Homo sapiens: one gene and its partners. The protein of the gene in region 3 purifies or fractionates together with the protein of the main gene of each other region. This does not show direct contact. Each region holds a gene or a part of one and is shown on either strand. Other genes may lie near its edges.

Region 1 (7,399 bases), on a different chromosome or scaffold from region 3:
TTTCAGTAGAGATGGCGTTTCACCGTATTAGCCAGGATGGTCTGGATCTCCTGACCTCGTGATCCCACCGCTTTGGCCTCCCAAAGTGCTGGGATTACAGGGGTGAGCCACCACGCCCGGCCTCTATTTTTTTAAACAGTAAAATCTTCTAAAATATTACTCCAAGATTTGACACTGAAATGAAAAAGTTTTTGCAAATGCAGAAATTCATAAAATCAGAGCAGTGGAACATAAATTTGATATTAGTAAAGCAACTTTTGTTATCAGAAGAATTACTTCATTTTCCTATATTCTTGCAGAGCAACAATTGAGACACTTATGGAACCTAAGAAAGCTATACATACACACACAAATGAAGTCTATTATGTTTTGCTATTGAGAAACACACAAAAGAATTGTAAGGCACTGGAAAAGTTGCCAAATCTCTTGAAATGGATAAAAGGAATTCCAAAGCAATGAAAGGTTGGTGTCATCAATTCATTTGTTTTGAAGGACTATCATTAAGATGTCAAACATCTTTTTGTCAAAAACTTCTGCTGATGTTGAGCAGAAGGCTATATGGAGCACCCTTTAAGAAATGCTGTGTTACCAATGTTTCTAATGGTCAGAGGATAATATTGTGTGACAAATCCAGAAATCAGCAACTCTAAGTCTAAAAATAGTAAAAAAACAAAAAAACAAAAAAAAAACAAAAAACGAAAGAGTTGGGCTTTGAATGTGAAGATATCTAAGGAATGCCTTATCCTGTTCATTTCACTTATATTTTTTCTTTTTAAGTGTGCACACAGGGATAGATGAGTTGGGAATGAACCTAGACTTAGAGTGCAGTAGTACCCTGGCCACAATGACTGGCCAATCAGTATGAGGATCTGGGTTTTGTTCACTCCTTAGTCTAACTGCCCCTTCCCCATGTTGGATCCTAGGAATCATCCTATGACCATAGGGAGAACCATCCTTAATATGAAGCCAACACATGGATAATGGCAGAGAAGCAAGAGAACCTCGACTGTTGATGACATCATGAAACCACAGGATCACCTCAAGGCAACTGGAATTGGGTTTTCTGTTAACTTGCAAATCAAAGCTTCCTAACTGAATAAAGACTCAGTTAATGTTAGTTGGTAGTGCATGCAATGATGGTTGAGGACACTTGAGACAATCCTGCTTTCTCAACCTGGGGGCAGAATAATACCACCATCTAGCCCTCAGTCAGCCATCGGTTCACCTGGTAAACCATTGGCCACATTTATGGAAGGTTTTAGAAAGAGGTCCCTATTGACTTTGCTTTGCTTTGAGACACACTGTGGAAGTATAGGATTTTTTATGCTTAAAACAAATAAGAAAGAGCTGAATTCAGGGATATTGGCATATAGAGAAAATATTTGAAGCTGATCTATGCACATCTATTTTTGAGATTCACATACAAGTCTTGTTCTTGATTTCGCTTTTACCCATCCACAGAATGGTAACCTGGGCCTGACATATTGAAGTGAAGTATCAGTTTTTGCTCTATTTTCATCTTGATGCTAGCTGCTTCCTGACTGTTCCCAGCGAGCCCAGACACCACAGGGCCATAAGCTTAAAAAGATCATGTTACTTCAGTCACTGCTGAGTAGCAGACGAAGCTGAAGCCAGCTGAATCTAGAAGTGCTATGACGCTGAAAAAGTCAGGAGTCTTTACCCAGATCTGCCTCCTGCAAGCAGTGTTTTCTGCCTGCCCTATGGGACTTGTGAGGGACAGAAAAGTTTCCCAGCCCCTGTCAAGATGGTAACATTATCTAAAGTTATCACAAAGCTTCTAGTCAACCTTAATTTCTACCACCTGAAATTCAGAACCTAAGGCTATTTTACAATCTTTACAAAATTTAAATTATTTTTCTCTTAAAAGCTGGGCAGGTTGGTGGGTTTTCTTGGTTTATTCTTCAGGTTTTTTGTTTTGGTTTGGTTTTTGGTTTTAGTCCTTGAGCTTTGTAAATAAGTTTTCCTGCGCCTGCTTGCCTGTAACTTATTTTTCTGGTCTAATGACTGTTTTTTAATGAGTTCAGCCTGTGCTTTCTTGTACAAAAAGAAACGTGGGCATGTGAGGAGCATATTAATTAGCTATCAGATGTAGCCTGGTTTTTGAAGTCCAGATCTTCAGGATGTTACCGAAGTGTAAATATAAGCATGACTTTTGCACGTGATTAGTAATTACATCACAGTTAAAGCCTCAGGGGACCTTCCACCCCAGAATTCTGCTATCCTCAACCCCTGAATGGCTCTGTCATTAATGGTCAGTCTCCAAGAACTCATTTCCCAAGGAAATGACTTCCTGTTTTGTTCTAAGTGGCCTTCCCTGCAAACCCTCCTCACCTTTGAACTTCCTATTTTGGGATGGAAAGATTGACCCTTCTCCCGCTCCTCTTCACAAGGTAAGGAGAAACAAGGGAGAAGAAAGAAAGGTCCTCTGGAGAGAGATATATGTATCATACATATCTTATACATATATCATATATATCTTATATATCTCATATATATCTTATATATATCTTATATATCATATATATATATATATATATATATATATATATAAAACTACACCCGCATTGCACCAAAGTATACGAAATATTTTCTGGCCTTCAAATCATATGCCTAACTCCTGCAGGAAAACTGCATGGGCACTCAGGCTGATCTCCCTTACCCCACAACTTAGATCCACCTCTCACGTTTTCTAAGTTTATTTCCACGCTGTCCCTGGGCCAGGCTCTAGGGTCCCAGAGGTGAAGTGGAGGAATTCACAGTTTGGTTGAGGAGAGACCCCCTTGAATAGATCAAGCTCCCCAAGTGTTGCTGTAAGTTTACATGGAACATGGAGTCTGAGTGGGAAGTCAGGGAGGTGAATCACGGAAGCCTTTGGACTTTGTACACCTGTGGGCAGCTCCCAGATGAAGGGGGGAAGGTGTTGCAGGCAAATGACCACCTTTGACGGGCGGACATCGGCCTGCTTTGCCACTTCACCTTATGCTGCCCTGTGACTGGTCTTTGCACTGTGTCACCGATATGTCTTTTTTTTTTTTTTTTGAGACGGAATCTCACTCTGTCACCCAGGCTGGAGTGTAGTGGCACCATCTCGGCTCACTGCAACCTCCACCTCCGGGGTTCAAGCTATTCTCCTGCCTCAGCCTCTTGAGTAGCTGGGACTACGGGTGCGCGCCACCACACCCGGCTAATTTTTGTATTTTTAGTAGAGACGAGGTTTTGCCATGTTGGTCAGGCTGGTCTCGAACTCCTGCCCTCAAGTGATCTGCCCGCCTTGGCTTCCCAAAGTGTTGGGATTACAGGCATGAGACACCGAGCCCGGCCAACCACTAATATGTATCGTGAGTCAGCTCTGCTGTCTCTGAAAGTCCAACCTCCTACTTTTTGTTTTTTGTTGTTAAGACAGGGTCTTTTTTTTGTTTTTTAAAGACAGGCTGGAGTGCAGTGGCGCGATCTGGGCTCACTGCAACCTCCGCCTCCCGGGTTCAAGCGATCCTCCCACCTCAGCTCCAGAGTAGCTGGAAATACAGGCACGCGCCACTATGCCTGGCTAGTTTTTGTTTTTTACGTAGAGATGGAGTCTTACTATGGTGCCCAGACTGGTCTTGAACTCCTGGGCTCAAGCGATCCTCCCAAAGCCCTGAGATTACAGGCGTGAGCCAGCGCGCCGGACACAACCTCCTACTTTCATGAAAGAGTGGGCACTTCCAACAGGAGGAGTAAGTGGATGAGCGGTGTGTGACACACCCGCCTCAGCGTCGCCCGGAGTCCGCAAGGCTGCGGCTCACCGTTCTCTGCCCCATAGCTGGCATTGTGGAGTGAAAGGGAACGTGGGTGGAGGATTGAGGTTGGAAATTCTGAATCTGTACATACAGCTTGAAGGGGCTCATCGAATGTGTCGGTCCTTTAGATTCCCCCTGCCCATGGAGGTTAAAAAAAAAAAAAAAACCTATCAAAAGAGCTATTCAAAACCAGGCTGAAGATTGGAAGGAAGTTGGCCAGCCTCGGCTGCAGGACAGGTGCTTCCAGGCTCCATTAGGGGTGTCCAGCGCCTTCTTTTGCCCTAGGCAGCGCCCTGAAGAACGCGTCGGGGCCTCGGTTCGCGGACTTGAGGAGTGGACCGACCGAGCGCTGTGCGTAAAAGGACCGCTGGGGCACACGCCCGAGCGCCACCGGAGCTAGGAGACCGCGGCCCGGAGGTCGGCGAGTCGGGGGCAGGCCCGGAGCTCCTCCCACGGGGGGCGGGGCGGGTCACATGGCGGTGGCGCGGTAGCGCGCGATGCAGCACAGGCTAGAGGCTGCGCAAGCGCGGGGCCCGCCCCTGGGACCCTCCGGGCCGGGCGGTTTGGCCCCTTAGCGCCCGGGCGTCGGGGCGGTAAAAGGCCGGCAGAAGGGAGGCACTTGAGGTAGGTGCTGCGCGCCGGGGCTCCGCGAGGCACGTGATGTCCGTAGGCGGGGCCTGCCGCGGCGTAGGTGGGGAAACTGAGGCAGTGCAGGGCCGGTAGGGTGGGTGCTGGGCTGGTGAGGCGCGCCCCTCGGGCCCGCGCCAACTTTCTTAGGAGCCGCCGCAGCGCTGGCGCTCCCTCCGAGGACGACGACCCTTCCGCCACCCTGCGTGGCGGCCGATGGAAAAACCCTGCGCCCAGACGTCGGAGAACGGAGACGGGGACCCGGCGCTGCTGCGGCGGGCTAGGGCCCCCTCTGTCCACGCCCGCAAGCCTTGAGTGACGCCGGTGGCGCCAACCTTCGCGAATTGTTGGGACAAAGAACAGAGGAGAGGGCCCTGCCCTGGAGCATGGGCCCGGGGGCCGCCCTGCTGGACCAGCCCCAGGTGCGGACCTGGCAGTCCTCGTCCTCGTCTCTGTGCCCGCTTAGGGTCGTGTCTTTTAAGAGGGCACGGTTTCTAGCGTTGTTCAGCGTTTCGGAGGCACCTGTTCCCCCTCTTTCCCAAGAGTCACAAACGCCTGACTTTAAATTGGGTAGAGCCCAGTTGTAAACTTAACAGCCCTGCTGAGGTCTAGGAATGAAAAGATGAACAATCTGCCCCCAGGGTTGTTGCTGGAGCGGGAGGTGAAGGCGCAGGTGGAGATGGTTAGAGGCAAAGGAAGGGAAGTCAAGGCCCAGCCGGTCCAGGGCTGTGGGAAGGAGGCACACCCGGGAGTCCACTGCCGGACCGGGGTTCCCAGCTGCTCCTGCGCCTCTTTTCCTTGCCACATCATGCTGTCTGCACAGCCCAGCAACCCAGAACTCAGCTTTTTTGTTTGTTTTATTTTAATGTATTTTCCTTTGAACCTGGCAGGTGGTTTTTCAAAAAGAAAATAATCAAGATTTGTTTTGAAAAGCATTGTGAAAAAGTCAGCTTGAATAGTCTTGAATGCTCCTGCTCGGGCCCAGCTTTGGAGAATGAGGATTGGGATTTCCACTGCAGACCCCGACTCGTTACCATACTCATTCATCAGAAAACTCTTCATTTTGTGTACAAATAACGTTTTGAGGGTAATCATTGCTCTAGAAATGAAGAATTATACATCGTATTTATTGCACTTTTTGTAAGGTACCTCACAAGGCACCTCCTATACATTTAATCCTTTGATTCTTGCAACTCTGTAGAAGGTAATTAAGGAAGCATTCCCATTTTACTGATGCAAAACAGTTCCTTGTCCAGGTTTATACAGCTTGCAAGAATTAAAGTTAGATATTATTCTTGGTGTGGGCCTTTCCTATATCCCCGTCTTTTATAAGAGCATGTCATTTAGTTGAGACCTTCTGCATTACTTCTGAAGGGGTACAAAAGACATTTCTGATGATTTTCTCATCTCGTGTCATTTAAATGGTGCTCAGAAAGTTTGGATAGGACTGGAACTCTAGGGCTCAAGCCCCAGGCTCTGTCCCTATCTAAGCAATAGGGCAGCTGTCCTGCCAGTTGGGTTCTTGCTTCTTTGTGAAATGTTGAGCAGAAGCTCCAAGTCTCTCTGCTGTGGCTTGTGTGGCAAGAACCATCCTGAGGTTCTGTGCAGAGAGCCAGCCTCACCTTTGAGCTCAGTGGCCTCTGGCACAGGGAAATTACAGCTGGGCAGTGTCCTTTGCCTTCTCTGGCACTGCTAGTGCAGGAGGCAGTGTTAGCTGCTACAGGAATAGCATGGAGCGGGCCTGCAGGCCAGAGGGGCTGAGACAAGCCAGTGTTCCCACCAGACCTAGAACGTTCACCAGAAAGCAGGCCTGCAGTGACACAGCTGCAGAAGTTCACTATTTTGTGCCTGTCCTGCTTCAGATATCCTGTCTTTATAGGGGCACGAGTGAATCTGAGCCCTGCAAAAGAGAGAAAGATAATGCTGCTTTGCCGTTTTCTAGTGCGTTACCGCATTAAAAATTGCTCTTCTTATATAATCTTTATGACAACTCTTTAAAGTGCCCTTGTTTTTAAGAAGACACTGAGGTTCAGAGGGATAAAATAACTCTCAGAGTCAAAGAGAGAAAACCCAGGATTATTGGCTTTTAGCCCAGTGTCTTCTGTGGTATTGCCTTGCCTTCCTATCCACACCCATATAACTTGATGAAGCCGGAGTTCTGAGCCCAGACAGGAGGCTGTGCAAGTGAGATTAGAATGGCTTGCTCTTTGAGGGGTGGGGGGCCCTACAGCTTGAGGAAACAAGAGGACATAATCAGCTACTGGGAAACCCTGAGATACGCCCAAGAGTGAGGAATGTGGGGGCTGGTGCTGCTTTCAGCATCTATTCAGAGGTTTCTGAATCTGGCATTTGAGAGTAGGACTGGGCCAGAACCAGGCAGATACACACCCCAAGGAGCAGGGCTGAGAGTTGGAGACTGAGGCAGGTAGGTGAGAGCTCATTGCAAGTGACTGATTTTGTGGTATATGAAGACAAGGGTGGGTGGAAGGGCATCTGTTGCTCATAAGGCTCTGTGTGCCTGCATCATCAGTATGCTAGACAAGGATGGACAGAGTCTTGTTATTGTGGGGAAGAGAGGTGCAGAATGGCTTCTCAGCGGAGACTAGGCAATGAGACCCTTAAGACATTTGGCTTCAGATTATAAGCTGCTTACCAAGGATTGGGCTTGGGAGAGGCTGATGATGTTCTCTCCAGGCAGCAGATTTCCCAGGCCCTGTTTACGGGCAGTCTTGCTCTTAGCTTGCCTGAGGCCAGTGAACAGGCTTCAAGACCTGCAGGGCCCCACTTCCTGAGCCCAGACTGCCATGCTATTCCAGCCTTAGAGGCCACTGGCCCTTGGCTGGCTGCCCAGGACCTAGCGTGTCTGATGCAGGATAAACAGTCATGGACTGGAAGTTGGGAGACCCAAACCTGAGTCCCAGTGCAGCCACTGACAACCTGCCCTGCCCATGTGACCTTGGACTAGCCAGCTC
Region 2 (7,306 bases), on a different chromosome or scaffold from region 3:
GAAGGATGTGGAAGAGTTCAGTAACTCCTGAAGACCAAAAAAATGGTGATAAAAAAGACACCTTCCTAACTTTTTAGTGCTACGATCCAAGAGACAAACAAGCAGGTGAACGCATAACTACACTGGGCTCCACCATAAGCCAGAGCCTGTCTCTCCTAGGACTTTGGCATCACAATCTTCTCTGAAATTCTGTTTTCGGCATTGATTCTTGGGGGAGGTAGCAATATAGGAACTCAGTGTTCGTTGCGAAACTGATGGATGGTCTTCAGTCTTGGGTACGTTCCCATGTGTCAAACCTGTTTAAATGGCAGGACCCATCTCCCCTTCAGAAGCATTCACTTGTCCTACAGGATTCCCCATGGAATCTTGGAGTTTTTGAGGCGAGAGGGATCCTGGATACCACTGAGTTCTATCTTTCATCCAATAAACACAGAAGTGGACGCCTGGACAGGCAAAGTGACTTGACCAAGGCAGGTGCACAGCTATTCTGCAACATTGGGAACAAATCTCAGGTCTTTTGATTTTTTGTTTCCACTTTACTCTCTTTTCATTTCCCAGAAACAAAGTTTTCATGTGCTTTTTTTTATAGTGATATGTTTGGAATGCATTAGCTAGTAATTTAGGAAGGGAAAAAAATAAACACACAAGAGATAAACCTGTCAGGAGGACAAACCTGTATTGCTTCTGATTGGCTCAGAGGGTGATTATTATCATGGTAGAGAATTATTTAATCAGTGTAAGTAAAATTTCTCTGTGGGCTGGGCACTGTACAAAGACTCAAACGAATCTGTCTACAGATCTGAAAAGCAGATACGAGATCTGTGAATGGCTGGGGTTTCCAAGCCCACAGTACAAGCATGGGCCACACCTTACAGCTTGGAGGACTGAGCCCTGAAAATGGGCAAGTTCCTTCACTTCTCTGAACCTTATTTTTCCCACATTTAAAACAAGGATGAGTAGTTTCTGAGGTCCTTTTTACGACTTCTCTTCCTACAGACTCTAGCATCCTATAACTTGATACAAAGAGGGTGGATATGAACTCACCTTTCCTAGAAAAGTTCCAGGAAAGAGAATACCAGGTCATCCTAGTAGGTGTGTAGACAGGCCAGATAGATCTTGAAACTTACTCAGTTCTTCCCAGATGTATAACTCTATCATTGTTCTTAGCTGTCAAGAGAAAGCAGGAGAGCCTGCATCTTCATTCTTTTTTTTTTTTTTTTTTTTTTTGGAGACGGAGTCTCACTCCATCACCTAGGCTAGAGTGCAGTGGCATGATCTCAGCTCACTGCAAGCTCCGCCTCCCAGGTTCACGCCATTCTCCTGCCTCAGCCTCCCAAGTAACTGGGACTACAGGCGCCCACCACCACACCTGGCTAATTTTTTGTGTTGTTAGTACAGACGGGGTTTCACCATGTTAGCCAGGATGGTCTCGATCTCCTGACCTCGTGATCCGCCCACCTTGGCCTCTCAAAGTGCTGGGATTACAGGCGTGAGCCACCGCACCCAGCCTGCATCTTCATTCTTACTGTTAGCCTCAGGTTCACCCCACCTAGCTTATTAAGTGATGTTGAATAACCAATTCTTACATATTATTAGGCTCATGGACACCATGACATCCAGACTGATGGGTGCCTGCTGAAGGGGGTGACCCTAGCAGGAGGACTCCCCTACGCAAGGATTCATGGAGTTTGCTGTTTCTTTTCCTTAGGGTGAGAACCAAACTGCCTTCACACGGTGGGCAGAGGGGAACTGACTCAGGTTTGGAATAAGAGAGAACATCCCAACTGAAAAGCTCTTGGAATTCGCTGAACTTCAAGACACTGTGTGGACCAGCTTAGGATAGGGAGTGAGAAGAAATTAACCAAAAGGTAATTTCGTTACTTTTCAGCTGGAAAAAAGATCAGATTATACTTGTGCTTTCATAATTAAGTAGCTGCTGGAAAAAAACGCTTCAGATGCTTTCTATGAGAAAACTGCTGCTTGAAGTTCAGCAGAAGTTATCTACTTGATACTTATATTCCAGGCAAGGCCTTCCGTTGGAGAAAATATCGGCACTTTGGACAAAACTGAAATGTGAAAAGAAAGGGAAGAGAGGGCCTCTATCATGTAAGATGCTTATCCAAAGTGGATTTGGTCTGGAAAGTCTTCTAAAACCTTCCACATGACTGTGGAATAAGTCATGTGGGGCGCGGGGATAAGCGAATCTCTCAAATTCCACCACGTATGCCCTCATTCAACCTGGATCCTTAGAGTGGCCTCCAGGGCACTCTGCTCAGGACTCAGTCAGCTGTTGGCCACACCCATGCTCTCCAGTCTCCTGAGACCCTATTTGGTTCTGAGAGGGCTAAAAAGCAGTGTGGCTAAATATCCCAGGCCTCAAAGTATTCCTACTGTGGTTGGGGAAGCAATAGAATCATACCCCATAAAACAATGAAAACAGTGCTAGAAAAACATCGAGAGACAGAAACATCTCTACGAGTTAGGCCACAGTTAGAGTGAAGGCAGGGAAGGTTTTTAAAGCTGGGTGGAGGGGACAAGTCAAAAAGATGTGGAAACTGGTTTCCCTTTCCTATGGCTAAAGTGCTCAAAGGGGAAAAAGGAGTTTCAAAAATGTTCTTGGAAATACCATCTCTCACGAATTCTTCGGCCTCTGCTGTCCCAATGTCACTTGTCTGAGATGTAAACAGAGGAGTTCTGAGAAAGAAGCTGAACTTGCATTTCTCCCTGTTTCTATTTGTTCCAAACTTGTGGCATTTCTAACAGGATGAAGCGGAAGAGAAAGGGAAAGAGACAAAAGTGTAGAAAGATGGAAGATCCCAGCTGCAAATGGCCATTTGCAGTTAGATGGAACAGCTGCTGACGTTCAGGGAAATGCATGTCTCTCTTCAGATGGGAAGGAGCAGTGGAAAGGGGTGACGAGTTCCTGGCTGGCCACCAATCATCCCATCTTTCTGTGCCGGTTCCTCATCTGGAAAGTGGGAGTGATACTTGTGCTTGCTTTTCCTACCCACAAAGATTATTGTGAGAGCTATAATACGGTGAGATACAGAATCCTGCTTTTAAAAATACAAAGCAGAATCAAGATGTCAATAATAAGGATAGTAATTGTGTTAGTTATCTGCAATCATCTATTATAGCTAGTCGTCTAGGATCCTGGATCGTTCTCCTGGTTTTACTACAGTTTTGGATCAGCTCACCCCCAAATCCCTTGCTGAAGGGTGGAGCTCTGTCAGCCATGGGCAGGGAACCACTTCCTCTTGCCTTTCTACTTTCTGTCTTTCAAACATGCCCAGGGTCTTTGCACTTGCTGTTCCCCCTGCCTGGTACCTCTCTCCTGTGGCTTGCCCCAGAGCTGATCCTTGTCTTTGTCCACTTCTCAGCGAGGATGGCACTTCAGGGAGCCCTTCCCTTACTATCGCAGAGAGAGCAGGCCCTCCCCAGTCATGTCCAACCCAGAACTCTGTTTTGTTTTCTTCATAGCCCTAGCATCACAGAAAATCACCCTGTGCATTCATGGATGTCCACGGGGGCAAGGGCTTTGTGTTGCTTAACCCAGCATCCTGAACCGTGTTTGTTGAATGAATACAGAACCCCGTTTGCTCTGGGAGAGCACAGAAAACAGTCTTCTATCATATATCATAGCCAGCTGCAAACAGCAGATGGCTTCCCATATCCCAGAGAGTAAGAACCAGAGAGAGAGAGAAAGAGAGAGAGTTTGGGTCTTTCTCCTCTGTGCCTGCTCTCTCCAGAGAAACTGGAGGGGTAGCAGTTAGCATTCCCCCGCTGGTTCCACCAAGCACAGTCAAGGTCTCTAGGACATGGCCACCCCTCACCTGTGGAAGCGGTCCTGCTGGGGTGGGTGGGTGTTAGTTGGTTCTGGTTTGGGTCAGAGACACCCAGTGGCCCAGGTGGGCGTGGGGCCAGGGCGCAGACGAGAAGGGGCACGAGGGCTCCGCTCCGAGGACCCAGCGGCAAGCACCGGTCCCGGGCGCGCCCCAGCCCACCCACTCGCGTGCCCACGGCGGCATTATTCCCTATAAGGATCTGAACGATCCGGGGGCGGCCCCGCCCCGTTACCCCTTGCCCCCGGCCCCGCCCCCTTTTTGGAGGGCCGATGAGGTAATGCGGCTCTGCCATTGGTCTGAGGGGGCGGGCCCCAACAGCCCGAGGCGGGGTCCCCGGGGGCCCAGCGCTATATCACTCGGCCGCCCAGGCAGCGGCGCAGAGCGGGCAGCAGGCAGGCGGCGGGCGCTCAGACGGCTTCTCCTCCTCCTCTTGCTCCTCCAGCTCCTGCTCCTTCGCCGGGAGGCCGCCCGCCGAGTCCTGCGCCAGCGCCGAGGCAGCCTCGCTGCGCCCCATCCCGTCCCGCCGGGCACTCGGAGGGCAGCGCGCCGGAGGCCAAGGTTGCCCCGCACGGCCCGGCGGGCGAGCGAGCTCGGGCTGCAGCAGCCCCGCCGGCGGCGCGCACGGCAACTTTGGAGAGGCGAGCAGCAGCCCCGGCAGCGGCGGCAGCAGCGGCAATGACCCCTTGGCTCGGGCTCATCGTGCTCCTGGGCAGCTGGAGCCTGGGGGACTGGGGCGCCGAGGCGTGCACATGCTCGCCCAGCCACCCCCAGGACGCCTTCTGCAACTCCGACATCGGTAAGCGCTCCTGGTGCCCCGCCCGAGCCCCACGCTGCAGCCAGGACTGCAGCGCTGCTTAGGGAGGCAGGGCGAGCCCCACTCCTTTCCTCTGCCCCAGGAGAGGGGCAGACGGGGTTGGGGCGGAGTGGAGAAACTCGATGTCCTTGGGCGGGGGCGCTGGCATAGCTGAGAGGGGAAGATGCCCTGCAGAGGAAACTCACAGTGGCTGAGGGAGCCCCTGGCCGCCTTTGCTTTCCTAACTTAGGTCGTGAGGTTCCTACCGGTCCTTTTGACATCTGGAAAATGTCCCCATTCACTACTAACGGAGGAAGGGCTAGAAGAGAAGGGTGGGGAAAGGGTTCCCAAAACTTGGAATGCTAACTAAAGTGCTGGGAAATTGAATAGTTAAAAAAAAAAAAAAAAGTTGCCCGCCATGTGCACGGAAAGTTGCAGGAGAAACTTGGAGTACTCCGAGTCTGCATCATCTCCTGCGCCTATGAAATTCATTCTTTTCACTGAGACCCAACCCAGCTGCAGGCTTCCCAGGCAAGCGCTAACCGAGCTTCTGGGACTGCCAAGTTTGGGTGGATTTAAGGGGGAAAATGAGGAGAAAGCTGTGGCATTGACCCACGCCCTGGAGGCACTGTGTTTGAGAGTGTTGATAGCCAGCAGAAGGTGCGAGGGGTCACTCACCACATAGCTGTGAAAATTCACAGGAAGGCTATTTTTTTCCCCCTTGAATGTGTGTGGGGAGGGGGAGAATGGGTAGTGGAAAACAGATTTGTCACCAAAAGAACAAACCTGCCAAGGGTCACATCACGGTGACAGTTCCAGACTGGACTTAGTGTCTTGAGTAGAGAGACCCTGTAAAGAGACCTCCTACTCCTTAGTGTGTATGGAGGGCCCCGAGAGCATCCTGGGAGGCTTGTCTGGGAGTGTTTGGGACACTTGTGTTTGGATGGCTAAAGGTGGAGTGGCATCTGGGAAACATCTCTCTCCTCCTTTCCAGCCCATAAAGCGTGCAAGTCCAGTGGCTCTGCTGGGAGAGTGTGTGTGTGTGCACTGGGCTGGGCTGGGCGGTGGGGTGGGACAGCCTTGCCGCCCTCTGCCTGTGTCGATTCAGAGGTGAAGAATGGAGCGTGTGTGTTTTAAGTACAGTCATAAAGGAGAAGGAAATTTTCCACTGAGTCTTGGGTGAGGGACTCTACCAGCGTGTTGTGGTGAGGAGGGGGAGGAGGTAGGAGCTTGGCAGGGGAGGCAGTGAGGGCCGGGAGGGGCACTGCTGGTGGGCTGGGCTGAGCCTAGAGGTCAGAGTGGGGGTGTGGTGACCAGAATGTCAGTGCAGTTGGCAGCTGAGGGTGTTTGTGTGACCTGAGGTCACCCTTGTAAGAGGCTCCCTGGGGCCTGCATGGTACATCCTCCCCTCTCCTGGGGGAACCCAGCTGGCCCAGGATTTGTGGATTGCTTAGAAAGATCCTTTTGGGCAGCCTGAAGACTGGGGAGGGTTTTCCTCCCTCCTCCACCTCCACCCACATTCCACTTACCCTTTCCCTCCTCATCCCAGTTGGTAACATTCCCACCTGATTAGTGTGGGGAGTTGCTGCTGCAGCTGAGTTCTGGTTTTGCCCAGCAGGATCACACACGTGCGGCCAGGAGGCTGGCAGGTGGAATCAGGGTGTGCAGGGGTGCAGCCCAAGTCCTTTTCTGCTGGAAAATGGGCTGGGTGACTTCACTTGCGTTTTTTTGGTATGTAGTGGGAGTAGGTCCCCATTCTTCCCCCTTGCCCTTTGCTTTGGGGTTTCTACCCTAAAAATTGACCACGGAAAAGTGAAAACAAGCATGAGTAGATCCTGCTTCCAATGGGGGCCTTCCCGTCTGCTTACTGCTTAGGTTTCCTGCGGTGGGTCTGAGCAATGCAGAAAGTTTCTTACAATTTCTCTGGATTGAAACAAGAAATAGCTCCCTCGCTCCTCTTCATAAATTTCTCAGAGAAAATCTAAGTTACCAGGAAGTAGCCAAAGACCAGGAGATTGTGGAATCAAAAAGAAAAAAAGAAACAAAAAATCTTCGATGCTCTGGCACGGATCCCAAATTGTTCTGCCTGGGTTTGGTGAGCTGCACTAGTGGCAGGGATGAGCTAATGCTTTTAAAATGGGAGGTGTGGGTGTGAGCTGCTTGCCTGCCGACCTCCCTCGCCTTGCACAGCACCCTGCTGGCGTCCAGTACTTGGCTCCCAAGTTTCATTGCTCAGAGCCTTTCTGGTTTCCAGTCTGGGTTGAAACTGTCTATTCTCGCCCTCAAACAAATATGAAGGAGCTCCCCATTCCTTGGGACCCACACAACCCCACCAGTCAACTTTGTAGCCCCCTAAAGGTGTTCACATCAGCCCATCAACTTCCTGTTTTAAAACCATCATGGTGGTTTTCTCTTCATGGCTTGGTGCCATGTTGGCCTAGCAAAAGGCACAGGAGGCCTGGCCTGGTCCTCTCCGGGGGGCTGCCCGATGGCCTTTCCTCCTGTCTCTGCTCATCCACAGGTGTCTCTTTTTGTCTTTTTTCCCCAAAGTCCTAGGGCCTGGCATGGCATTCTGGGGGAGGAGGAGTTAAAAGGTGTTTCTATGGCAACTCCAGGCCCTGCACCCTATGGAAGTGTTTAGGAGAAGAATAAACTACATGCCGGCTTA
Region 3 (7,709 bases):
AACTCTACTCACTAAAGATATTATAAAAAGAATGAATAGACAAGTGACTGGGAGGGAGGCAAGATACTTGCAAATAACCAACAAATGGAAACTTGTCAAAACCACAGTAAGATACCACTACACACCCTACAAAATGACAAAGCTTTAAGAATCTGTTGGAGTGTAGCTGGAGCAACAGAAATTCTCATATGCTGCCAGTGGGAAGATAAACTGGCATACCACTTTGGAAAGATGTCAGATATTATATAGTAAAGTTGAAGACAGGCATATCATATGACCCAGAAATGTTACTTTGTTTCTACCCTGAAGAAATGGCTATACACGTGTACCACAGCATATACATAGCAACACTGTATGTAATAGTAAAAAAACTGGGAAAACTCCAAATCGTCTATTCATAGTACAATAGATAAATTTTAGTATTTTCATTCAGTGGGATATTACATAGATGCTAAGCCGTCAAAAAATAGAAAAGGCTACTGCATAGTGACCTATGCAGAAATGGCTGTCTTCCTTATAGTAAGAGAGTGACAGACCAGCAAGAAAGACTAAAAAGAAAATTAAATATAGCTCTCAGAACCAACCATAGCAACAGCAGGGAATGTTTTGAATTCCAGCATGTAGCAGACACTGTGCTAGACTGTCTTAAGATAACTCTACCTCCCACAACCATTCTGCAAAGTAGGAATTATTTTGCATATAAGGAAACTGAAGAACAGAAAAGTTAAATGACTTACCTGAGGGCACACAGATAGCAGGTGACAGAGTGAAGATTTGCAGCCAGGAATCAAATCCCACCTTCTTTCCATTGAAGTATGAACTGTTGATTGCAGCAACCATTCACCACCCCTCCCTTCATCCAGAACCCTGATTTTGTTAAGATGTACTGCCTCTTCCGTGCTGTCCACCCTAGGGATGGCAGAGCAAAAGACAGAACAAGCATGGGCCCCTGAGGACTCTCTCTGGCAATGCTGCCAGGCCATCCCAGTTAGATGTTTTTGCTTCCTTTTATTTATTTTTCCTTTATTTTAGTTTTAGGCCCAGTGGTTGTAGAACTGCTAGGGTTCTTGAATCAAAAAGAAAATGTAGTTAGAAGGCAAACTTCCCATTTCCTTCCAAACCATTGCAAGTAATACTGAAACCCAAACCAGATCACTACAGCAGATGCTACAAGGGCTACAACAGGACTGGTTTACGCAGCCTGCAGAAGAGAACCCAAGCAGGAAGGCCTGTGAGTGTAAAGGGCTCCAGCAGGCAGCCTGGTAGCAGTGTTCCGGGAAGCCTGAGATGGCTAAGAGCACTGTGAGGGTGGAGGCCTCTGCTTTATCCTGCCCCGATTCATTCGCCCTATGAAGCTCATAGGTCCCTGCCAGACAGAAGCCCACACAGTCCTGTGCCTCCTGCCTTTCTAGGCTCAGCGCTTCTTCCTGGTCCAAAGCAGTTAATTTCCAAAGTGAAAATTCCGGGCCACTATGTTGTCACATCCCCTCAAGCTACAACCCGGTTCCCAGTCTGTGTAGGAAGTTCTATTACTATCAAGAAACTCTCATGTTCTTCTTACTGCTTTGCTGCTGACGTTCCTCTCATCTGGCTCCTGTGCCTCAACACCCCTGCCTCTCCCCTGCACTGGCCAGAGGCAGTCCATCCTCTGAGCACTTCTAGTCCCCTCCTGACCTCACATTAGTGAGGAGGATGTCTGATTGCCAAGGGCTATGGCTACAGACACAAAGCTTTCTCTTTTCGGGGGCTGGGATCCTTTATTCCATCTCTTCAATCTCTTTGGAGTTTTCTGTAATCTTCAAAATTGTGCTCTGACTCTGGCCTTTGGGCATGGCCTGTGGTGGGCTGTGTCCCTGGCATCAACAAAGGCTTTGACACAGTGTGGCCTTCAAAGAGCAGCTTGGATGAAACCCCAGAGGCCTGGAGCTGCAAGGAAAGTGGGTTAGCCCAGCTTTCACAGGGACCATTTGGTCCCACTTTAGTTTCTGCTCCACGTGGGAACAAATGTGCCCCTTAAGGCCTTTCAGATTGCGGGGGTGACGCTGATGGGTATTTATGTTAAAGCCAAAACCTTCAGCTAATTTGGAAGCTGACAGGATTCTGCTAATTCTTTGTGTTCATACAGGATCTGCTCCCTGGCCTTCCAGGTCAGGATCTTGGGTGGGGCACCTGGAGCCTCCATTTGCCTCTGAATTTTCTAGAACCAAATTGCTTTTCTTCTCTCATTTCAAGGTCCTAGGAGAGAGAACCAATAGGAAAGGCCATGTCTGGAAGCAATTTGGGTGGGGGCGGGGGGTGTCTTGAGGCCTGCCCAGCCCAGCCCTTTCCTCTTTGTTCAGCCTAGGCAAAGGAGCCACAGCTGCCCACTCAGAGCTGTTTTAATTGTCCCCAGAAACCTAACTTCTAGAAAAACAATTGGCTTGCAAAGGATTCCAGACTCTCTGAACAGATAGATGATCAGAATCTTTTCTGATTTTCGTTAAGGAAATATTTCAAGAGGGACTGTGGCACCAAGACAGTGAATGCCTGCCCCTGAGCCCCGATGAGAAGGAATTAAGGGCCCTGTGACTCTGTATGTGACCAGAAGCCACATCAGGCTCCGCCAGGCCTGGCAACTGTCCCTGGTGTTCTGTTCTTCACCTCCTGCGGCTCCTGACTCTTCAGTTCTCAGTTGGAATTGAGGTCAGCTCTCTCGTTTCCTTGTCTGGCCCCCTTCACCACCCACAATGCAAACCCACACTGAGTGACTAACCAGCAAGAGGCCCACAGCAGGTCCCATAGCAACCAGAGGGGGCCAAGCTTGCTACCACAGCCCACAACATGCCAACACCCCATTTAGACTTTTACATGAGAAATAAACATCCACTTTGTTCAACTGCTGTTGTTTTGTCTCTGTGACTAAATCAACAATTCTGGCAAATCTAGAAAGAAGCAGAAGAATTAGGTGCAAAGTGCTGGAAGTTTAGCAGCCTCTCGTGGGAGCAAGAAAGCCCCAGGCAGGTTTCTGTCCACATCACTTTAATGTGGAGCACTCTCCTAGTCCTCTAGATCTGTCTGTTCTATCACCTTCCCACAGTTCAGCTTCCTGTGCTCCCCAAAACTTCACCTTGGAAACATATTTAACTGGTTCTGACCTTTAGCCTTGTGTGACTTTGTGGGTCCACAGCCAATATCAAATAACTACAGACAACAGAAACTTGGTTAAAATTCTCAATAGAGGGAAATGATCGCTGGACAGTCAGCAGACTCGCTGTTTTCAGGTCAGCTGCTGGCTCAGTCCCCTCTGGGTGCCAGGGAAACCTGACAGCTGAGGGTTGTGAGAAGAAGCAGTTTCTCTAGGAACTGACTGACATGTCTCCCTAAGGAGAGAGAAGTGACAGGCAACTCTAGGGAAGATGGCTTTCATGGCTTCATAAAGATCTGACTGGCTCTTTGGCTTCTTTTCCAAGGTAGCCCAAATCTGTTCCTGTGTGAATATCTTTGTCGAAAGGGATGGCATGGTCAGGTAGGCTGGGTAGGATGAACTGCGGGAAGGTAGATGACCAGGATGGGGAAGTTCTGATGAGGTGGGGCTGAGGAGAATGAAGACTAATGCCCAAGATCAAAGTTAGGGAAATAAAGTTTCGCTGCCAAGTCCAAAGGTCAGGGTCACAGTGGAAAACTGGACACAAAGCCAAGGTCAGGAGCCGAGAGAATTGGAAAAGTGGAAACAAACCAGGGAACAAGACTAGGCCGGGCATTGTGGCTGATGAGAATGAGCTGGTACCCAGCCTAGCTTCACTGTCTCTCAACCTAGCCTCATGCACAGAAAAGTATCAGCGAAGAGAGGGCTGGGTTTAAGTGATGTCACCAAGGGGGAACAAAAGAAAGCAGCGTTTCTCAACCCAGGTCCATAACTCTCGTGTTGTGCACAAGATTGTGTACATTTTCCAGAGTTTGTTAAAGGGAACAGCGCCCCCAAAAGGGTTAAAGTTTGATTGTGGAATAATCTGGTTATCCAGAAGAGAACGATCTCTGCGGGCTCTCCTGTCTCGACGAAGTCCTTTAGTGGCTGAGGGTCTCGGCCACCTTCCAAAGGGGCGGAATCCCCCTGCCTCGCGTACCCCAGGGGTCTCGGCAGCGCCGCTATTCTGTGAGCCTATTCCTCTCAGAAGCGCCGAGCACTAGGCCTGGAAGAGGACAAGTCTAGCAAATGAGGGGACACGGGCGGAGGGAGGGATTAAAAGATGGGGGTGTGATCCGTGCCAATGGGGACACCCACTGGTTCGAATATTAACGCGAGGTTTGTCCGCTTCTTCACAATCTGTCCGTTTCGTTTTACTGCGAAAGCAAATGTGTTCCCATCCCTCTATTTGGGGATACGATTAGAGTTCCGGGAAGGGGGTGCAGCGCCCGGACTGGCACAACCGCCGTTGTCCCACCTCCTCCGGGGCGGCAACACCGCAGTGCCAGGCCTGGGACTGAGGCGTGGGGTCCCCCCTCGCTCCGTCCTGGCGCCGCCCGTCGCCCCGCCCCTTGGGGGGCCCCGTGGCGCACCCTTGTGACGTAGCGCTTGTGTCGACATCGGCGCGCGCCGAGCCCGGAAGAGGCGCGGGCTAGGAAAGGAGTTGGTTCGCGCAGGTGCGGCGCCTGGGTCCCCATGGCGCTGTGGCGCGGCTCCGCGTACGCGGGCTTCCTGGCGCTGGCCGTGGGCTGCGTCTTCCTGCTGGAGCCAGAGCTGCCAGGCTCGGCGCTGCGCTCTCTCTGGAGCTCGCTGTGTCTGGGGCCCGCGCCTGCGCCCCCGGGACCCGTCTCCCCCGAGGGCCGGTTGGCGGCAGCCTGGGACGCGCTTATCGTGCGGCCAGTCCGGCGCTGGCGCCGCGTGGCAGTGGGGTGAGTGCCAACGGGGCCTGGGTCTCTGAGCCTCCGAGGTCGGCCTTGGAGGTCGGGCGGAGCCGCGCAGAAACAGGGCTTCTCAGAGGTCCCCGGGAGGCGCTGCTGTCCGCGCTGGCCCCTTGGCGAGAAGTGTCGGACGTCTGAGTGGAACCCGGTTCGTCACCGCTGCTCTTTCCACTCGGCTGGCCTCTGCGCCTTTCTCTCATCCCGGTAGGACCAGCCCTAACAGCTTCTTGCTAATCCCGCTTTGTCTGACACCTTTCTCCGAGCCTTCTTCCTCGTTCCAACTTTTAGCCCCTTCTCTTCTGGCGACTGTTGTTTTGCAATCAAAGATACTTGACCTTACCCACTATGACAACACTCTTCCTCTTTCTTCTGAACTTCTTGAAGACGCGTGATGTCTGCCTTTACCCACTTTCGAAACGCCGTGTAGTCTAGAAACCACACGACTGTACTGCAACTCCTCTCAGATTTGCCTTTTTGAATCTTCATTATCTACTCTGCAGCCTTCCACGCATTGAACACGCCCTTCTCCGTGAAATTCTTTTCTTCCCCTGACTTCAGTGACACTGCATATTTAAGGTTCTTCCAAATGACACTACCTCCTTTCTTTGTACTTTTCCTTGGGAATGTAATTATTTTCTTTATAGTATTGATACTGTAAACACTAACTTTAGTCCCTGTCTCAGTTCGATTTGACTTTCTTGCCGTAATCTCAGAGTTATGTATAACCACCACATAAAAGCAGGCCCTCTACCATGTAGCTCACTACTTTCTGTGGAGTGTTGGGGCCGGGAGGGGTAAAGTAGAGCAAACTTGGCCTGAAGATTAAATGACATCATTCATGTAATCTCTCTAGCATAGTGCCTGCTTTAAAAAGCATTCGATATTAGCTATAATTTTGGGGTTTTTTTTTTTTTTTTTTTTTGGACACAGGGTCTCTCTCTCTGTCGCCTAGGCTGGAGTGCAGTGGTGCAATCACTGCTCACTGCAGCCTCGAACTCCCGAGCTCAAGAGATCCTTCTGCCTCAGCCTCTGGAGTAGCTGGGACGACAGGCAAGCACCACCACGCCCAGCCAATTTTTTATTTATTTTATTTTTTTTAGTAGAGTCGAGGTCTTGCTATATTGCCCAGGCTGGTCTCGAACTCCTGAGCTCAAGCCAGCCTCCCATCTTGGCCTCCCAAAGTGCTGGGATTAAATTGTCCTTCCTTGCTTTATGCGCGTTCATTCAGCAGATATTCACCAACTACATGGTTAGTGTCAGGTCTGTGCTAGGTTCTTAAGATACAGAGATGGGTGAAGCAAGGCCCCTGTCTCACTTGTTGGAAACATATTATTGTATCAGTCATTTGGGCTGCTAGAACAGAATACCACAAATTAGGTGGATTAAACAACAAATCTGTTTTCTCGTGGATCTGGAGGCTGATAGTCCAAGATCAAGGTGTTGGCAGGATTGGCTTCCGATGTGGCCTCTCTTCCTAGCTTGCAGCCAGCTGGCTTTTCAGTTAGTCTGCGCATGTACACTCCTGGTGCCTCTTATTCTTCTTATGTGGACACTAGGTCCTTTTGGAATAGGGCTCACCCGTATGACCTTATTTAACCTTAACTACTTCCTTAAAGGCCCTACGTCCAAATATAGTCACATTGGGAATTAGGGTTTCAGCATATGAATTGGTGGGGGGTGGACAATTCAATCCATAACAATTATGGTTAGAAGAGGAACAACCCACGAGGACCAGGCAGAAGCCTTAATGCCTTTTACGACCTTACCTTAGAAGCACATAGGAACTCTTCTACCAGAGTCACAGGTCCACCTGGTTTTAAGGGAGGGGACATAGAACAAACCTTGATGGGAGGAGCATCAGTGTCACATTGTGAAAAGAACATTTGGAATGGGGCATCTTATTGCCACCATCTTGGAAAATATATTTTACTACAGTGACTTTCATAGGACAGACACTAAATAAATGAGATTTCTTCAAGCCAAAGTGGGAACAGGTCCACCTAGGCAAGAGAACCAAATGTGAAAAAGTACATGGTTTGTTTGGGAACAGGTCGGCCTTGTTTTGGAGCGAGAATCCTATGGTAGAGGGTTGTAAAGAGATGATGCTGAGAACGAAGGGTTGGACCAGATTGTGAAGGGCCTTTTATGGGGAAGCCATAAAGGTTTGTAAGTAGTTAACTGATGACAAGTTCTTTGTTGAGAATTGGTGGGAATGTGAAGGGTGGATTTTGAGCAGTGGTTCTAAACTGTTTCACTGCTTCTCATCATTTATTACCCAAAGAGGATTTTTAGCCCAAAGATAGGGGGATATAGGAGGGATGAGGGGGAGCAGGTGTAGTACTTGTATCAGAATCTCATTTTGAGGTTGTAGTTTGACTTCTCTAGAGACACACTCGTATTCACACTCTCTGTCACACAGACACACTCAAAATGCCATTTAATGTGATTCATAAGGAGGAATATCTTGACATCCTGACACTGGTTTAAGAGGCCATTGTAGGGTTTGTGTAAAGGGAGAAAGGAGCCCGAACCAAACTCGGCAATGATGTAGAAGAGGTGAGATTTGAGAGATAACCTGAATAATAGTTTGGATGTGGTGGAGTAAAGAAAGGCAGTCAAAAACGACAGGTTTTTAATATTGGATATCTTGTTTAGTTTTTGTTTTCTGTTTGAGACAGCATCTCACTCTGTCACCCAGGCTGGCGTGTGCAGTGGCATGTTCAAGCTCACTGTGGCCTTGACCTGTCATGCTCAGTGTCCCGAGTAGCTGGAACTACAGGCATGTACCACCACACCCGGCTAATTTTTATATTCTTGGTAGGGACAGG
Region 4 (7,149 bases), on a different chromosome or scaffold from region 3:
ATTCTTTCTTGTTGGGTTGTCTTTATGAATTCATAAAGAATTGAATAGTGCTATTCGCTGAGGTGTATAGAGCTGTTTTTGTTTATAGTAAATGGTCTCAGCCTGCTGGGTTGAAATACTAGAATAGAGACAGAAGTACCATTCTTCTTTTTATGTTTTTTTTTTTTTTCTGGGTCCTCTTTCTGTTATTGGCTATCACTTTCTGCTGCTGTCAGACTGTGAGTGGGCCCTGCTGCTCTATTATCTGTTGTCTTTTTTTCCATCAAATGATGTGGGCTATTGCCCGAGTGTAAATCCTGTAGACTTTGTGACAGACACTTTCAGTTTACGTGCTTTATTTGTGGTTTGGACTGTGAACTGAAATGTTTAGGTTTCCAGAAGGGTGACCTCTATATAAAAGGTTTTAATGTACCTTTTATAGAAAAAATTTGTGTATGAGATCTTTAGGAGGGTGTATTAATTTCAGACAATTCAGTCTTCTGGAATATCTTGGTGTTTCTGAGAAACTGAAGCAGCCTTTAAAAAAAAGTTTACTTTCTTATGATAGGCCCAGATCGTCTTTGTTTAGGAATATGTATACTAGAATATTTTACATATTACTTTCTGCCATTGAAACTTACTAACTATAATGTAGTGTAGTTAATATTTTTCTACCCCGGAAGTCCAGAATAAGAAGTATGATTTGAGAATCCTGCTAACCATACTTGAGGCTACATGAATTATTTAAATATTATTTTGCAAATCTACTTATGGAGGAGGTACATAATCAAATACATATGATTAAAATGGTTTAATTTGATCTTGAAAACAGTGGTAATCATATCTCCTTAATCTGAAGCATTTCACAAACATTCATTCTTTTATTCAACAAATATTTGTTAAAAGCATACTGTGTGCCAAGCACTGTGCTCTGGGGATGTGCATACAATTAAGGCCCTGGGAGGGCTCTAGGTTTAAAAGGGGGAGACAAGGAGGAAACAGGCTATTTTCAATATCTACAGTATAGTGCTGGCTGTTCTGTAAGTGCCGTGATAGAGATACACACACAGTACCCTGAGCAGAAATTTGGAAGTGGTCAATTCTGTGTGGGGACAGGAGATTTGAGGGTTTCTTAGAGGGTGACATAAAAGATGAATCACTGGAGGCAGGAGCAAGATCATGGAGGGCTGTTTGCCATTCTCAGGAGTATGGACTATTTTCAGTTTAAGGTTGTTTTAAACAGAGGAGCTATGTGATGAGAAAACAGCTCTTACAGCAAGCAATCTAGAAGGATGGATCTGAGGAATGTGAGATTTGGATGGTAGTTTAGAAGATATTGGGGTGGCTTTGGTAAGAGAGGTTGAGGTCCTTGTACCAAAGTGTTGGCAGTGGGATGAAAAAAAGGGGTTTGGTTACAACGATATTCAGGTGGTAGAACCTCTAAGATTAGGTGACCAATTTGGTTGGAGGATTGGGAGTGGGTGGTATAGGAGGATGGGATGGGAACTTAAAAGGAGATCCAGATTTGAGAGCAAGAGTGATAGAGTTCAGTTTTAGACATGTAGAACTTGAAGTGCTTATAGAAAATCGAACTGGAGATGTGTGTCCAGTGAATCATTGTATGTGAGTTCTGAGCACAGAGGTCCTGGGCTAGATAGGCAGGTAGATAAATGGTAGGTAGATAAATGGATAGACACACAGAAACATTTAGGAGTTTTCAGTGTATAGGTAATTATAAACCGTGAAAGTTGATAGGTTTTCCAGGGCAAGTACCAAAAGTTAATAGGGAAACAGAGGCCTGGGGAGATCCTAAAATTTAAGAGTTGGGTAGAGAAATAGGAAGCAATAAAGAAAAACGAGAAGGTACAGAACAAGAGAGGCAAGAGGAGAGTTAGGAGGGTGTAACTTTTAAAAGCAGCTGAAAACTGAGAAAATTTCAGAAAGTGAGAAGGTCAGGTACTGAAATGAGGGGGTGTTAGACAGTCTCGGTTCCCACCCCCTCTCGAGCCCCGAATAGCTCTGTGACCTTGAGCTCACAATTTAGTTTCATTTCCTCATTTAGCAAATGAGGGGAGAAGCACCTACTTTATAGGGCTACTGTGAGGATCAGATGAGATAAAATCTATCAAGCACAATGCCTGGGAGGTTACTCCTTTGTGTTTAACAAATGCTACCTGTTTTATGGAAACCAGGACTTGGATTTGTGATTAGAAGGTCCGTAGTCATTTTTGCTTTCACAAGTACTCGCTCTCAGAATTCACAGAGAGTGATTGAAAATATATTTTTAAGATGAAAATTTGATCATACTTTTAACTTTTTTGGTTAGAGGCCAGTAGAATAGCAGCCATTGAAAGTTTTGAAGGGAGCAGAGGGAGCCAACTGAACAAAAGTCCTTGAAGAGAGAGTGGAAGTTGCCTCAAGAGCGTTGCAGAGATGTTGGGTTTCTCAGGACAATCCATGCTTCCGCCAGTCAGGAGGGTCTGGTGGCATATGCATTGTGTTTAAAAAGCACCTGGTAATTAAACCTCCAGGTTTCTAATGTCTTGTTTAAAGTACTCTTAGTATTTTAAGTGTGTTCTAGTTCCTTAGATAATCTATAAGGACATTGATTATACATTTTAGTATTAGCTGAAAATAAACTCAGAAAACAATACAGATGATTTCAAAATTTAACAAAATGTAATTTAATATTTGATGATTCCAAAGGCACCTCTATACCTCATAGGGTCTTAAAAATCAACATGTGAAAAATAATTATTAGCCTGTGTAATAGGGGAAGGACTGATTTGTAGAGGTTTGTTTGCTTTTTTTTTTTTTTTCCCCCAATTAAGACTACTATGGTAATATTTAAATATACCTACTTTTTTCCTAGGATTTTCTGTTTGGATGAAGTGATGCTTTATATTAGAGATTAATAAACATTTTAAATTAGATTTCTATTTTAATATGTGTATAAGTTTTTTACTCTGTAATTACTGCATAATTTGAGAAAATGTTTACATCTATGCAGTGGTTTGGAAGTCAACCAACAATTGCACATAGTACATATTGTTTACTAATTGGTTATAAGGCATATAATAAATATTTGTTGTCCCAATACATGTTTGTTGAATAAAACAAAATTAGATATTCCATATTTTTAAGATGAAATGAATTTTATATCTGTAGTTTTAATATTTAATCATATTCTTTACCTGAAAATCGCTAGCCATACTTTTCGTTTTCAGCACTTCTCTATTTTGCAGTTGTGTTTCAGTGCTTTTTTTTTTCCCACTGTGCTTAGTCCTTCACGATTTATGGCCCTGTTATTTGTAAAGCATAGTAATCTAAGCAGGTGATTTTCAGTTTAGGATTTCTTCTAGTTCCATGTTGTATATTCACCAAGTCAGTTTTAGACTATATATTGTCATGCTCAGCACTCCCTTACAGAGATAACAGATGCCAAGTTGAAATTGACTTATACAGAATGCCACACTTAGGTAAGTGTTTAGGAGTGCATAGCCAAAATAAAAATGGTACCTTTGGTTTATGAATGGCAGGGCATCTAGGACAGTGTAGGTCAGTTCGTATTCTCTGGATGGACATTTATGTAAATATTAAAACATTTAGATTAGATGGAAAGATGTATAGTAGGAACATTTCAGAGATACTGTTTCCTTGTAGCATTGTACTATTTATCTGAATTGTTAATTTGGAATAATCACTATATTGATTTTATTTTGAAGATATAATTTATTTCCATTGACTTGATATAAATAACAGAAATGCATCTGCAAGGAATCCAGTTCATTAAAGAAATTTACATTCGTATCTGATTTGGTAAATATGTGCTTGATTTGGGAATATTATATAACAAAATATTTGTGAAATCATTTTGTACTTTTTAATTGTTTTGAAGAAATTTAATACTCAAAATATTTCAAGACACCAAATCATGACTTTTTAGTTATTACATTAAGCTATAACTTGCTTTAATGAGTAAAAACTGTGGGGCTAATTTTCTTCCAAGTGAAACATCAAGTTTAAATAATGTGCACATGAATTTACAAAGTAGAATCAAGTGTGCAAATATGCTATATGTTCTGTAATAGGTTCTTGAAAAGCTGTATATAAACTCAGCTTTTATAAGTTGAGTCATATTTATAGAATAAGAAAATAGGGCAAACATTTAACACTTCTTAAATATTAAGTGATGGGCATACAGATGTTTGTTATGTTAATCTTTATATTTTTCTGTATGTTAGAAATAGTTTACAGAAAAAAATTGTGGTTAGTGACATTAAAGCACATTATATATTAAATATACTCAGGGACTTTGAAATTTAAAGCAATATCAACATACAATTTACCATAGAAAAAATCCTATTCTGATTTTATTAATACCTGTTTTGCAAATTCAGAATTTTTAATGGGTTTAATTAAGCAGATACACACACAACAACAACAACAACAAAAAACTTGGACACACTTCTGTAACACATCTTGAATATAGTCTCATCTGTTGGAATTTTTTAAACTTCTACACTTAAGTCTTAATCTGATTCTCCCTCATCCTCATAATATTCATTATTCAGAGGAGAGGCATCAACAGGAAGAATTCAATTTTACTTAAATAAAAATTTTTTACTAGCAACGGAATGAGTGATTCAGTGGTGGTGTCTTCCTGCTTTGAGAGAGCTGTTCTAAGACTAGGCAGTTAGTCTTAGGCCTAAGACTAGGCAGTTAGTCTAGGGGCTCCACAGCAGGCCCTTCCTCTGGGTTCTCTTTATGAAGAAGGCCTTTGTGTTTTACATAGATTTTGCATTTGTGCTGCTGTCCCTATTGAGTTGTTCTCACCAAGCCAATCTGGGGAGTAGCTCTTAGGGGAAAACTAGTCAAACAGGTTTGCCTGTCTATTCAAAAGGAGGGAAGAACGGTGAAATGTATGGATAAAGGCCAAGAGTAAAACTGTTTTAAGTAATATTCATGCTAATCACTGACTGTTGGTTTTGAAAATACTTTGTAGACATTTGTGAGAATGTATCTTAATGGAGATAAAGTAAGAGAGAAACTGGAAGGGGAAGTAGTTTAGAAGCAGGGGATAAGGACAAGATGGGGAGAAGGAAGGGAAAAACAATGGAGGCAAAATAAGCTCAAGAAGGAAAGAATAGTGTTTCAGTGTCATATCTGGGCTTTATGTAAACTGGGTGTGTTATAGCAGGAAACCATGGTATTGATCTGAGAATGAATTTAATTAAAACAAACAAAAAACCCCCACATGCCTGTGATCCTCAATGTCCAAAATAGGGAGCGTCTTGCCAGGGCAGGGCTGAAGTTTACTAGGAATATTGGTGGGAAAATGTTATAGTTAACCATCTCTGATACTAATCTTATATTAGAGATAATACTTGGTTTCCCCTAGTAAAGTGTTAGAGTCATACAGCTTTATTGTAGTTTGCAAATCTATTACACATATATTTCTACTGTTTAGTTCTCATTCTGCCCCTGAAGCATAGCCCTATAGGTAGTAGCATTTTACAGCTCATAACTTGGTAGAGTCCCAAGTAACCTTTGGAAGTCAAAATGACAATCCAGTCTGGGGAATTTGATGTTAAAACTAAAGCTTCTTGCCTAGAACAAGTTTTGGAACTATAGCTCACCACCTGCCTCATGTTCTGGGAATGCTGAACCTTGATCCCACTGAAATTACCTTTAAGTAGTCTTTCTGTAGTCCTCAGTAATCTCCTCCTTTGCTCCATGCTTCTTCCCTGCTCCTTGAGAGTTCCTTCTCCTTTCTCATCTGTAATGGTAACTCCCCATCTGATCTTTGGTTGTGCCTCTTCTTCCTTCCTGGCATTTTTATTAACATCTTTTGTCCCAGCACCTCTCCTCTTCTCTATTCTCACTCCTTTGGTGTAGTTATTCATGCCCATAGACTGGATTTTTATTTATATATAGATGATTCAAAAAGCTGTATTTCTAATTGTGATTTCTTCTATACTCTCAAGAGCTTAGAGTTCCCAGCTCAACTTCCTAACTCAGATCTGACATCCCCATTTGCCTCAGTCTTCGAAGACAGATTTTGGTGTTGTGGAATTCACTTTTTTACCCTTTATATCTAATCTATTCCTAATTGATCACTATGTCCTTCATGAAGACCTTCTTCCCTTGCCTGAGTCTTTCCATTCACCTCCTGATGTCTTGGTGTAGTCCCACATCACTTCTTCACCAGTGGTACTAAATGACTCATTTTCACCATTACCTGGGCCTTCCATCACCTCCTACTGCCCACAACCATCAGTCACTTGTCCTTACTGACCCACTTGCCTTCTTTGAGTGTGATTTGACTATGCGTTTATTTTCACATGGGGATCCAAAATTTTTAGCATGGCTTTCGAGGCTGTCTATTGTCTAGCTGCTTTCTGATCAGACTTATTTATTTTCTCATATTGCTCAATAGGATTCTATCCTGTTTACCCACTGGGGCATTCATTTCAGGATATCCCCCCGCTTGAGATGTCCTGCCTTTTTTTTCTTCTGCACTTCCAAATTCTCACCCAAGGTTTTGACACTCAAGTCCCACCTCAGACTGTGGCTTCCCAGTCTCTGTCACTTTTCTGTGACTTTGATTTGTACATATATTGATGTTAGCAATTAGGTTTCATTCTCCCTCTAAGGAGAGTATGAACTCTTAGAGGGTGGAGTCTCTTGTCTCCTCATACACCTTGGACAAACACTATTGATCAGAGAGAAGATATTCAAACATGATTGAATGGTATCTTTAGTTTGTCATGAGGCAATAAGGGTAAGTTTCCTAATTTTCTATACGTATTTTGATTTTTTCCTGTTGTTTTTTCCAGAACTGCATCATTCAAACTTGAAACATTCCCCTATTTTTTTTTAACAAGGTGTTCTATATAGGAACAACATATCTTATAGGGATTGCTACATTATTTAGTCACAATGGAAAAAAAAGTTTGATATATAGAAAGATTATATAATAGTTACATGGAACTCTACTATAAAATTATAATGGTTTAGTGGGTTTTCTTTTTTAAATTTACCTGGGGCTTCTATAGGTGGATGTGCATTCACAACTAATTCTAGGTAATGCTAATAAAAGAAAATAATCACGGTGATAATTAACTGTATTTAGTTTTTATTTTGTATTTACATTTCAATGTAAGTATG

What was found.
Region 1: the proteins of ADPGK (region 3) and PRXL2A purify together in Homo sapiens (affinity purification with mass spectrometry; 2 studies listed by BioGRID and IntAct, with this or other methods). This does not show direct contact.
Region 2: the proteins of ADPGK (region 3) and TIMP3 purify together in Homo sapiens (affinity purification with mass spectrometry; 2 studies listed by BioGRID and IntAct, with this or other methods). This does not show direct contact.
Region 4: the proteins of ADPGK (region 3) and UGT8 purify together in Homo sapiens (affinity purification with mass spectrometry; 2 studies listed by BioGRID and IntAct, with this or other methods). This does not show direct contact.

Annotation. Positions count from the first base shown.
Region 1 is NC_000010.11:80,404,220-80,411,618, forward strand, and holds the start of PRXL2A (peroxiredoxin-like 2A isoform 1 precursor), read left to right. Parts: upstream 1-4,331; 5' UTR 4,332-4,424; exon of another isoform or gene 4,425-4,813; coding exon of another isoform or gene 4,814-4,849; intron 4,850-6,774; exon of another isoform or gene 6,775-6,852; intron 6,853-7,399. UniProt on the Homo sapiens protein: Involved in redox regulation of the cell. Acts as an antioxidant. Inhibits TNFSF11-induced NFKB1 and JUN activation and osteoclast differentiation. May affect bone resorption and help to maintain bone mass.
Region 2 is NC_000022.11:32,797,482-32,804,787, forward strand, and holds the start of TIMP3 (metalloproteinase inhibitor 3 precursor), read left to right. Parts: upstream 1-4,223; 5' UTR 4,224-4,520; coding exon 4,521-4,641; intron 4,642-7,306.
Region 3 is NC_000015.10:72,780,622-72,788,330, reverse strand, and holds the start of ADPGK (ADP-dependent glucokinase isoform 4 precursor), read left to right. Parts: upstream 1-4,572; 5' UTR 4,573-4,639; coding exon 4,640-4,872; exon of another isoform or gene 4,873-5,496; intron 5,497-7,709. UniProt on the Homo sapiens protein: Catalyzes the phosphorylation of D-glucose to D-glucose 6-phosphate using ADP as the phosphate donor. GDP and CDP can replace ADP, but with reduced efficiency.
Region 4 is NC_000004.12:114,601,675-114,608,823, forward strand, and holds part of UGT8 (2-hydroxyacylsphingosine 1-beta-galactosyltransferase precursor), read left to right. Parts: intron 1-7,149. UniProt on the Homo sapiens protein: Catalyzes the transfer of galactose to ceramide, a key enzymatic step in the biosynthesis of galactocerebrosides, which are abundant sphingolipids of the myelin membrane of the central nervous system and peripheral nervous system.